Regions from separate parts of the Homo sapiens genome. Here region 1 is linked to region 2. Evidence: fine-mapped expression QTL. A gene starts in region 2. The other region holds a variant in brackets. All regions are shown on one strand. Distances are between the middles of the regions.

Region 1 (5,392 bases), 83 kb after region 2:
AAAGTTAAACACGTCTTCATATTAAAAACCCTCAACGCACTAGGCATTGAAGGAACACACTTTAAAATAGTAAGAGCCATCTATGAGGAACCCACAGCCAACATCATACTGAATGAGCAAAAGCATTAACCTTGAAAACTGGAATAATACAGGAATGCCCTCTCTCATCATTCTTGATCAACATAGTACTGGAAGTCCTAGCTAGAGTGATCAGGCAAGAGAAAGAAATAAAAGGCAGTCAAATAGGAAGACAGAAAGTCAAACTATCTATGTTTGTAGACCGTATGATTCTATATGTAGAAAACACCATATTCTCTGCTCAAAAGTTCCTTGATCTGATAAACAACTTCAGCAAAGTTACAGGATACAAAATCAATGAACAAAAATCCATAGCATTCCTATACACCAACAACATCCAAGCTGAGAGCCAAATCAGGAATGTGATCCCATTCATAATTGCCACAAAAATAATAAAATACCTAGAAATACAGATAATCAAGGAAGTGAAAGATTTCTACAATAAGAATTAAAAACAACACTGTTCAGAGAAACCAGAGATGATGCAAACAAATGGAAAAACATTCCATGCTCGTGGAGAGGAAGATTCAATATCATTAAAATGGCCATACTGCCCAAAGCAGTTTACAGAGTCAATGCTATTCCTATCAAACTACAATGACATTCTCTTTATAATTTGAAAAAAAACTATTCTAAAGTTTATATGAAACAAAAATAAGATAAAAGCTCAAATAACCAATGCAATCCTAAGCAAAAAGAACAAAGCTATAGGCATCACCTGGCTTCAGACTACACTACAAGACTACAGTAACCAAAACAGTATGGTACTAGTACAGAAACAGACACATAGACCAGTGGAGCAGAATAGAGAGCCCAGAAATAATGCCACATACCTTCAACCATCTGATCTTCGACAAAGTTTACAAAAACAAGCAATGGGGAAAGAACTCCCTGTTCAATAAATAGTGCTGGGATAACTGGCTAGTCATTTGCAGAAGATTGAAACTTGGCCCCTTCCTTACACAGTATACAAAAATCAACACAAGGTGGATTAAAGACTGAAATGTAAAATCTAAAACTATAAAAACCCTGAAGATAACCTAGGAAATACCATTTTGGACATATGACTGGTCAAAGATTTTATGATGAAGATGTCAAAAGCAATTACAACGAAAAATTGACAAATGGGTCCTAATTAAACTAAAGAGCTTCTGTTCAGCAAAATATCGACCAAGTAAACAGACAACCTACGTAATGGGAGAAAATACTTACAAACTATGTATCCTACAGAGGTCTAATGTTCAGCACCTTTAAGCAACTTAAACAAATTTATAAGCAAAAAACAACCAATCCCCTTACAAAGTGGGTAAAGGACATGAACAGACACTGTTCAAAAAAAGACATTTAGGTGGCTAACAATCATAGGAAAAAAAGGTCAACATCACTAATCATTAGAGAAATAAATGCAAATAAAATCCATGAGATACCATCTCACAGCAGTCGGAATGGCTATTATTAAAAAGTAAAAAAATAACAGATGCTGGTGAGGCTGCAGAGAAAAGAAAACATAACACTACTGGTGGGAATATAAATTAGTTCAGCCATTGTGGAAAGCAGTTTGGAGATTTCTGAAAGAACTTAAGATACAATTACCATTCAATGTAGCAATCTCATTACTGGATATATATCCAGTGGAATATAAGTCATTCTACCATAAAGACACTTGCACACATATGTTCATTGCAGCACTGTTCACAATAGTGAAGACATGGAATCTACCTAACTGCCCATCAGTGCTAGACTGCATAAAGAAACATATGCACCATTGAATACTACACAGCCATAAAAAATAATGAGATCACATCCTTTGCAGCAACATGGAGAGAATTGGAGGCCATTATCCTAAGTGAACTAACACAGGAACAGAAAACCAAATACTGCATGTTCTCACTTATAAGTGGAAGCTAATTATCTAGTACATGTGGACAAAAAGAAGAGAATATAGACACCAGGGCCCACAAGAGGGGGAAATTGGGAGGAAGGTGAGGATCCAAAAACTACCTATTGGGTAATATGCTTATTAATACCTATTGGGTAATATGCTTATTACTACCTGTTGGGTACTATGTTTATTGCCGGGGTTACAAAATAATCTGTACACCACATCCCCACAACATGCAATTTACCCATATAACAAATCTGCACATGTGCCCTGAAGCTCAAGATAAAAGTAAAAAAAAAAAAAGGGCTAATGTTTAACAGCAACAACAA[C/T]AAAAAAAAGGCTAGATGCTTTACATATGTAATAACTTTTTCATTTTTTAAAGAAATGGCACTAAATATGTAATGGTGTCTCATTGTGATTTTAACTTGCATTTTTCTGATAACTAAATATTGAACATATCTTCACATGCTTCATTTGAATATTCTCTTTTGAAGTACATTTTCAAGACATTTATTCAATTTTTTCCTGATTTACATTTTTTCCTGCTAGATTGCCCCATATAGACAGTCCCTATTTCCAGAAAATAGACCAAAAACTCCTATAAATTATATTAATGATTATATGTATAATTATATATTATATTAATATTTATATATAATTATATATTATATTAATAACTTATGGAGGTTTAGTCTATTTTATATTATATACAATTATATAGATTATATTAATATATGGGAGTTTTTGGTCTATTTTCTGGATATAGGGACTGTCTGTATGGGGTATCTAGCAGATGAGGACAGCAAATGGTATCACAGATATGTTCATTGTCCAGAGAAAGAGAATAAGCACCAGAATTGGTCTCAAAACTCTAGGGTGAGGGAAAAATATATGAAGGTTCTCCCAAGTCTTAAGGACACTTATGGAATTAAGGGACATTGCAGCTACAATCTGTGAATGTCTAAGCCCAGACGGGAGGACAAACATTTCCACAGATACCTGTAAGTGTAAATGACCTGAAGGTATAACACCCCCTTCTCCAACACCTCAGGCTGTGTAACACAATTTAACCACAGGCAGAGGAAAGTGAACACAGAAGCTGACCATTGAATTGTCCACACACGACAAAATAAGCCCTCCAAATGTGCTTATTCCTGTTCTTGTCCTCTCACTTGAATTTATGGATAAAAGATGTAGAGATTGTGGATGATCTCATTCATGAAAGATTTCATTTCCATAATTTTAATTATATTTAAAAATTGAAATTTTAACATTTATTAGAATTTATATCATTTTATTGCTTCTTTCCCAAATTGTAATCTGTATAATGGCTTAAATCAAATACCAGGGCTGGGACGGTTACAGTGCTAAGAAGCAAATATAGCTGCTAGTTTTGGGTGTCTTAGTCACCAACAGTCTTGTGACTACATATGAGTACATTGCACAGGATGGGAAAAAATAGGATTTCTCCAACTTGAAGCAAGACATGCCATAAGCATTTGACCGTTAAGTGTTGCATATCTGTTAGGGAAATGCTAGAAGAAAGAAAATGATACCTACATCATCCTTTTTAAACCAGGGCCCTCAGGACTGTGCATGTCTGACACAAAACCATACCCTGTGTCCATAGTATTGATTTTAGATTGTGGTAAATAAAGCATAGCAGTAAAGCCCAGAAAATTAATTCATGAAATGACTAAATGCTTCCCCTAAAACTGGTGACATTTAGAAGTATTTTTGATTGAAAAGTTTTAAATCTCCATAAAACCAATGCTAGATTAAAATGCAAGCCATGCTCTATGACTAACCTTAAGTGACACCCTTGTCTTTTTATTTCCTACAGGGTTGTAATGTTCTTCAGCTCTCACAGTGATTAATGAATGAAAGAATTACAAAACAGAATAAAATCAGTTAATTACTAATGCTCTAAATTGAAATTCATATTTAAATTGCAGTTCAATTTTTGTAATGAAGGAATACAAAGCATGCAATATTTTTTCATTGTATAAAACTTATAGAGATGCCATAGTACATTTAATGTAATTTTATAAAAAGAAATTTGAATCAAGAATTATTCAACCATATTTATGGAAGTAAAACAGTGCTATAGAGAAGCTGTTTCTATGTTTTCCGTTATTTTGATGATATAATTATCTTTTAGCTGTTTCAAAAAGATAATCAATGAAACTGAAATACTAACAAATTATCCAAAGTAAAAATTTCTGCATGTAATATCACCTTAGATACAGATAAACATAAGACGGAAAAGACTTTTTCCATCTTTTGAATATATTTATACTTTTTTTCTGAAACATTAAATTCTTCTTTAAAAAATTATAAAATGCTAAAGTATAGAAATGTATAGAGAGTAGTATCATAAAATATCCATGTATTCACAAGCTGATCTGTTACATTTACTTCAGATACATCATTTTTTAAAAATGAAACAATACAGGTACCCCGTGCATGGTCGCTCATACCTGTAATCCCAACACTTTAGGATGCCAAGGCAGGAGGATCACTTGAGCCCAGGAGTTTACGACCAGCCTGAACAATATGGAGAAGGTCTCTTCTTTATCTGTATCATTTCTGCTGGTTTCTATGCCAATTGCCTTATCTCCTTCAATCTTTATCTTTAAAACTGGATTGGAAATTATATTTGAAAAAGTGTTTGTAGTAACAGTTTGCATACTAGGATAAAGCTTTCCTTTTTCCAGAAAGGATTTTATTTCTCTTATATTGTCACTTTATGGTACTGGCAATCTAGAACCACCTTAAGCTAAAATCAGAGTGAGAATTTCTGGGACAGTCAGAAACTTATTTTCCCATAGCTGGGAAATATCTGGCTTATATTTAGCGTCCGCTGTCTCCAGCATGCTGTCCTTCATAAGAGAAGTGGTTTGTGCTCTGTCCCTGCCAGTATCTAGACTGCAGCCATTGTTCCCAAGTCCTGAGAGCATGTCAAAAGTTCTGCTTAGTCTGTGCCAAATACCCCCAGGGAAAGAATTTCTAAATGCAGGGTTTATTCTCAGAATTTCAGAACTTCTCCCTTGACCTAATTTACTATTTTACTAGTACTCTGCCTTTGAGATAATTTTTTAATGTGTTTTGTCCTGCTGTGTTAGCTTTCTTCAGTGGTACTCATTAATCCAAGTTATGCTAATCCATATTGCTGTAATCAGAAGCCATTCCAGGTATAGAATCTGACGACCACCAATGTCTTTCCAAGTATTTCTTTCCCTGTACTCTTTATCTCACTGAAACTCTCATTAGACACATGTTAGAACCTCTCGTTCTTTCATCTGATGGATCTTTTAATCTCTTTTCTCTACCTTTTAGGCACTTTCCTGAGATGTGTCTTATAATTATCCAGGTTTCCTTTAGGTCGTTACTTATCAGCTGTTCAATTCATTAATGGAGAATCTGCTTTAA
Region 2 (5,369 bases):
ATTTGTCCTGAAACCAGGCAACTGTGGGAATCTTGAAATTCTTTCTAAAAAAATTAAATAACAAAGAGGAAGAGGACTCCATTGCTTGGTTTCAGTTCTCTTCTAATTTTTCATAGCTTATGTTTTACTTACAGGCGTTTGTTACAGCAAAACTGTTGGCTGTCTCAATGTTGTCCACATGAGGTACCAAATTAAAAGGAGCTTCCGACGCATTGGGGCTGGTGTTATGAAGAAAAATTGCTAATCGAAAAGCAGTGTATTCCTGATCTGTGTTTCGGATGAAGAGACCACCTATTAAAAACAGCAGGAAAAGCACATTCACTGTTTCCTCTTGTCAACATTATACCCACCCCAAGCACAGTCAAATCTACTGCCATTCACAAGCACATACAATTAAAGAGCTATACCTGCCACATCTAGGGAGACTGCCCTTTGTCCCTAAGGTGCATGCTTAGTATTTAGTCTTTAGAGCAGCTCAGCTTTTTCTTGTCCTAATGTGTCTTGCTCACAATGACCTCTGAGACCATTTAGTGAATGTTCCTTTCTCTCCCTTGCCCTCCCCCTGATTCCCAGCACACTGCTACATCAGCCACCTCAGGGCAGCTCTCTCTAAGATGCATGCAGATGAGCGGAAAAGAGATTTACATTAAAATACGGAAATGAAGGGATATAGTGCCACACAGGGAAGAGGGAAATCAGAAAGAAGAAATGAACTTTATTTTCCTCCAGCTCGTGGACTCAGCCTAATTAACTCCGTTTTATGCACAGTCCACGAGAAATGATGCAGTGTTGAGGCTGGGCTTAGCTGGAAGAAATTCAATAGCTGCGTCCCATTAAAAGACAGTAGAGGAGAATAGCAAGAAAAGCCAAGGATGGAGGGTGTCCCTGGAAACAGAGTCGAGGTAGAGAAATAAGGGCAAAAGCTTCAAGAAGAAAACAAAATAAAAGGGGAGAAGCTTCCAGGAAAGGGATCTAACTTTGGAATCTGCTAACTGGTAGCAAGAAACGGCAGGGCGTGCGGGTGGAAATGTCTTTTTCCTCAAACAGTGTCTTTCTGTAATAGCAAGAAAGCTGCGGCGTCCAGAATGGGAAGAAGTGGATTTTTTTTTTCTTTTTTAAACAAACTCGACATCACTTTATGCTTTAGAGAAAGGGATGGAAATAAATATCATATAAAATACAACCAAATTCCCCGAAGACTTTCCCCCAACTTATTTCAATCCTACTTAAGCGACTATAGGTAAAGGTGGAAATAGGGCTATGGGCTGAGAACGCATGGGTGGGCTGCCCTGGGTGTATTCCAACGGAACCTGCACTAAAGAGGAAGTCTTTTTGCAAAGGAGAGAAAGGAAGAGGAGGGAAACAGAGGGGAAGGGAACTGCTGAAGGTTTCCCTGAATTGCTTATCAGCAACTCATTTAACTCACTTTCGGATATCTGCTACAACCAGCCACATGCACACCCCATCGGAGCACACCTTACCTATTTGCACGCTGCTCGGAAAGGCTCCCATGGCGAGTCCCCAAAATCCAGAAAATAACAAGACAATCTGTCTGGAAATAATCCTCATCTTCTTTTCTCCTCTCCCTGGCGCGCGCTCTCTCTCTTTCTCTCGCACTCTTCCTAAAGGCTGTTCAGAGAAGCATTGAAGACGATGGCGCTAAAATTAAAATCAACCAAAAAAAAAAAAAAAAAAAGAAAAGAAAGAAAAGAAAGAAAAAAAAGGAAAGAGGTTTCGGTGGTTTAAGATTATGACTAGTTCTCCTTAGCAATCCATCGCGAGCCGCCAGATTTTTCCCGCAGTCTCCATAGCCCTGGGAGAGGTTTTCTGTCCGGCTGCAAATGTTGCACATGCAAAAGATGGTGGTGGAGCGTCTAGTGGCTGCTCGCAGGGATGAGACATGCGCTCTATCTTTGCCTCACTCGCACTCGCGCTCGCCCCTTGCTTTCTCACATACACACAAACACTGGCGCCGCGGCCGCCACACGCGCTCTCCAGCTCGCATCAGCCGACATCCCCCAGCAAGCCTGCACCAGCCCGGAGCATCGCTGCCCTCCTGGCGTCCCCTCCTCGAGCGCGCACTCCCTCCGCACGCCCCTCGCCCACCGCTCGGCTGGCTTCACCCCCTGGGTGCTCACCGGAGCGCCCCAGTCTCCCGGACGCTCCGGAGCCAGTCTGGTGTCAGGTTTTCCCTTCTGACCACTCGCTGACTCCCTCCTCTTTTCTTCCTCGGTTCGCAGAGGGACCGACTCTGGGGATGGGCACCCCCAGCGCCCCTCTCTTGGTTTTCCTGGCACCTCTGCTTCTCGGCTGCGCTAGGCAGAAAATCCGCCCACGGGCCAGGTCTGCAAGCCCCAATCGGGGGCTCCGGGGGGTTAGTACCTCCCCATGCCCCCAGGCCCCTGCCGCATCCTTGCAGGTTCGTGAGGAGGACGGGCTGCCTCCCTCTCCTACAGTCCTGGCTTCCCTCTCAGCCTAGCCCTCTTCTGCCACTGGGCTGCGCGCGGGGGACTCCGGTCCTCGCTGCAGCAAAGATTTCTCACCAGCAAACAGCCCGGGAATCTGGAGAGCCTGACAAGGGAATGGATGAGGTGAAAGGGTTCAGAGAGGGATGGGAGGAGAAAAGACAGGCAAAGGGCAGCCCCTGGCGGGTTTAAGAGGCCAGGACCAGGATGAAAGAATTGGAGGAGGTAAGGATGGGGAAGAGAGCCAGAGAAGTTGAAACATCCTGGGAAGGGGAGGAGGGGGTAAAAGGTTATTTTAAATAACTGACGAAGTTTAGGGTACTGAACGGGATGGGGAAAAGACTGAGAAATGAAAATTGAAAGAGGCCTCTAACATTCTCTTGGAAAGGCATGAAGCAGGGATAGGAATAAGAACTGCGTGAAGTGTAAAGTAGGAAAAGTGATTAAAGATTCGATTGCTTTCTATACAGTCACCCATTCCGGAGGACTCTTTCCTTCTGTGCTGTGGCCCATTGCAGGAGCAGGAGGGACACAGCGCAAAGGCTGATGAAGGACCAGAGGGGCAGTGCTTGGGGCAGTGGGCACAGGTGTCTGACAGGAAGATAGTGTTTCGTGCACATCTCCTCTTGTCTGGGACTCTGGAATGCTCACTCTGCTCCACGCCACCTCCAGGTAGACTTAAGCACTTCAGTGATGATGTCAATAGTTGTTTTGACTGGGTAGAAGTGAAAATGAATTATCCTAGAAAGTTTTGGGGTTACAGTCTCACTTGCTCTCCAGAGTCACCTTTAAGATTGTCCTTTCATCTGCCTGTCCTGGACTGAGCTTGAACCACACTCAGAAGCAGTCACTGTGGTAGCCGTGAGTGACCGGTTTCTGATTTCCTCTGTATGGTTTGAGATTTCCTGATCTAGTTAGTAAATACAATCTCCTGTTCCAATAAGCTGTGTGAGAGAATCATTAGAAGGAGAGGTTCTCCTTAAACGTTAGGGAACCTAGGGTGATGTCTGCCATTAAATTTTTAAAAAGAATATAGCAAATGCCTAGGTTTGCCTGATATAATATTTGAGACTACAATGCTTAAAGTGGAATTCTTGCAAGGGACTTACAGAAAGCCTGGTAACGGCTTTTTGAAATATACATTACCTTAACTCTTTCAAAATACTTTATTTGGTGTCACTGATTACCTGTATTTGTAGTTTGTAGATGACATTTTAAAATCCCTGCTAAAACTTGAGTGCTTTTCTATTTCCTAAGTTTTGAATTTTATTTTTAAAATTGCATCTTTAAAATAAGTGTCTGCTTTCCCGTTACATTTCACCACAGATTGTTATGAAAAAAAAAACCTAATTGTAACTGTATTTTACAAATCATACATTTGTCATTTTAGTTTGTGAAGTTTTAGTCTTGCAAGTCAAGTGAAATTTGAAGCATTTTTCCTTTTTTTATTTTTCTGTGTTAAAAAACAAGGCTGTGAATAATAGCATTCTGTTTTCTCTTGAAAAAGGATAATAGAGTATGACACATAAAATTCAAGTTAAATTAAAATTTCAAAATCCACCAAACTGTTAAACTCATCACTTGCTTGGGTAACTAGTGAAGCTCTTCCTGATCCAGAGGCAATTATTAACTTTAATTCTTCTCAAAATTGAAAGATTTCAGTTTTCATATGATGTAATAGCATCATTGATATAGATGCAGGACAAGTTTTTTTTCCCCACTTAACTGTCATGATAACACCTGGACTAATATAACCACAGATGACACAACTATATTTTTCCAAAATAGTAATCCAGTTGTTTTTAATTTCTATTTTCCCAAGTAGTTAAAACCTCTATTTTACTTTCTAAACCTAAACTCTCTTTATCTGTATTATATACACATATATTTATAAATGTATGTATCAAATATATTTTCTCTGTATGATACATAGAAATATCATATATACATATATTATATACGTATATACATGTATATAGATGTACATATATGTCAAATAGTTATATATTAAGCACCTATGATGTGTATTTATTCTCCAAGTGTTTGAGATATAAAGTTGAACAAAACAAAATCCCTGATATTCTTAGAAGACTCTTAATGTTTATGAATGCTCACTAATGTGCAAGGTATTGTGCTGAAGCCATACATATATTACCTGATCTACAGAAAATTTTAGGTATCCTTGCATTTGTTAGGTAACCCAACTAAAGATTTAGATTCTTTCTCAAGATTATATTCTTGGTAAGTGATGAAACCATAACTAAGGATGGGACTCAAGTTGTCTGATTTCAGAGACTGGGCTGTCTTTATTAAAACCTGCTGTGTTAATGAGTTTAAGGAGTGACGAGGGGTCTGGGAGCTGAAAAGTAAACTACAAGAATCCTAGCATTCAGAAAGGTAGTGTGTTCTACCTGAAAGACCTCAGGCTTTCAGACTAATAATTAGTAACTGGTTTCAGATTACAGGCCCTCAATTTCTTAGCTGTATTGACTTGGATATATTACCTAACATTTCTTTTCTGACAGGATATAAGTAAACTTTCAACACAGTTCTGGCACATAACTGGCAACTCTTGTCAATAATGAGTTGCCCCCCAAAATGTGATAAAGGCTCTTATAGAGTGAGGTGCAGAGTGCCATGTGAGCAAAATAGAGTGTCTAACTCTGACTTTGAGGGAATTCAGGGAGAACTCACAGAGAGAAAAATAAAATTGAACTGAGTTGCTATGTGTTTGTAGGGATTATCAAGTGGAGAAAAATTATGTCTTTCTAGACACTGCTAAAAGCTTGGTAAAACTAGACTTCAGGTTATATGAGGGGAAGTAGTGGAAGTGCGGCTGGAAAGCAAAGCAAGAGATGGCTCGGCACCATCTCACTCAGAAGCATTGTCTTCGTCTCATAGAGA

Which allele goes with the higher level. Alleles are on the strand shown, and positions count from the first base shown. SD is a standard deviation of normalised expression in the study named.
In carriers of allele C in region 1, the expression in pancreas of the gene that starts at base 2,494 in region 2 tends to be lower than with T alone (large effect, 0.85 SD a copy in GTEx).

The links. PIP is the estimated chance that this variant, and not a neighbour inherited with it, causes the effect. A credible set is the group of variants that fine-mapping cannot tell apart.
Region 1: its variant is the best candidate, but not a certain one, in a credible set for the expression of GRIA4 in pancreas (GTEx, PIP 0.58).

Annotation. Positions count from the first base shown.
Region 1 is chr11:105,524,068-105,529,459 of GRCh38, reverse strand. It overlaps a transcript of LOC105369468 not described here. Among named protein-coding and RNA genes, the nearest start is that of GRIA4, 83 kb to the left of the region's middle. The variant C/T (reference allele first, on the strand shown) is at 2,290.
Region 2 is chr11:105,607,198-105,612,566 of GRCh38, reverse strand. GRIA4 (glutamate ionotropic receptor AMPA type subunit 4) reads right to left here and starts at 2,494. Exons shown (of 17, transcript NM_000829.4): 1 at 2,139-2,494; 2 at 1,482-1,659; 3 at 133-291. The coding sequence starts at 1,569. RefSeq lists a silencer at 1,318-1,518.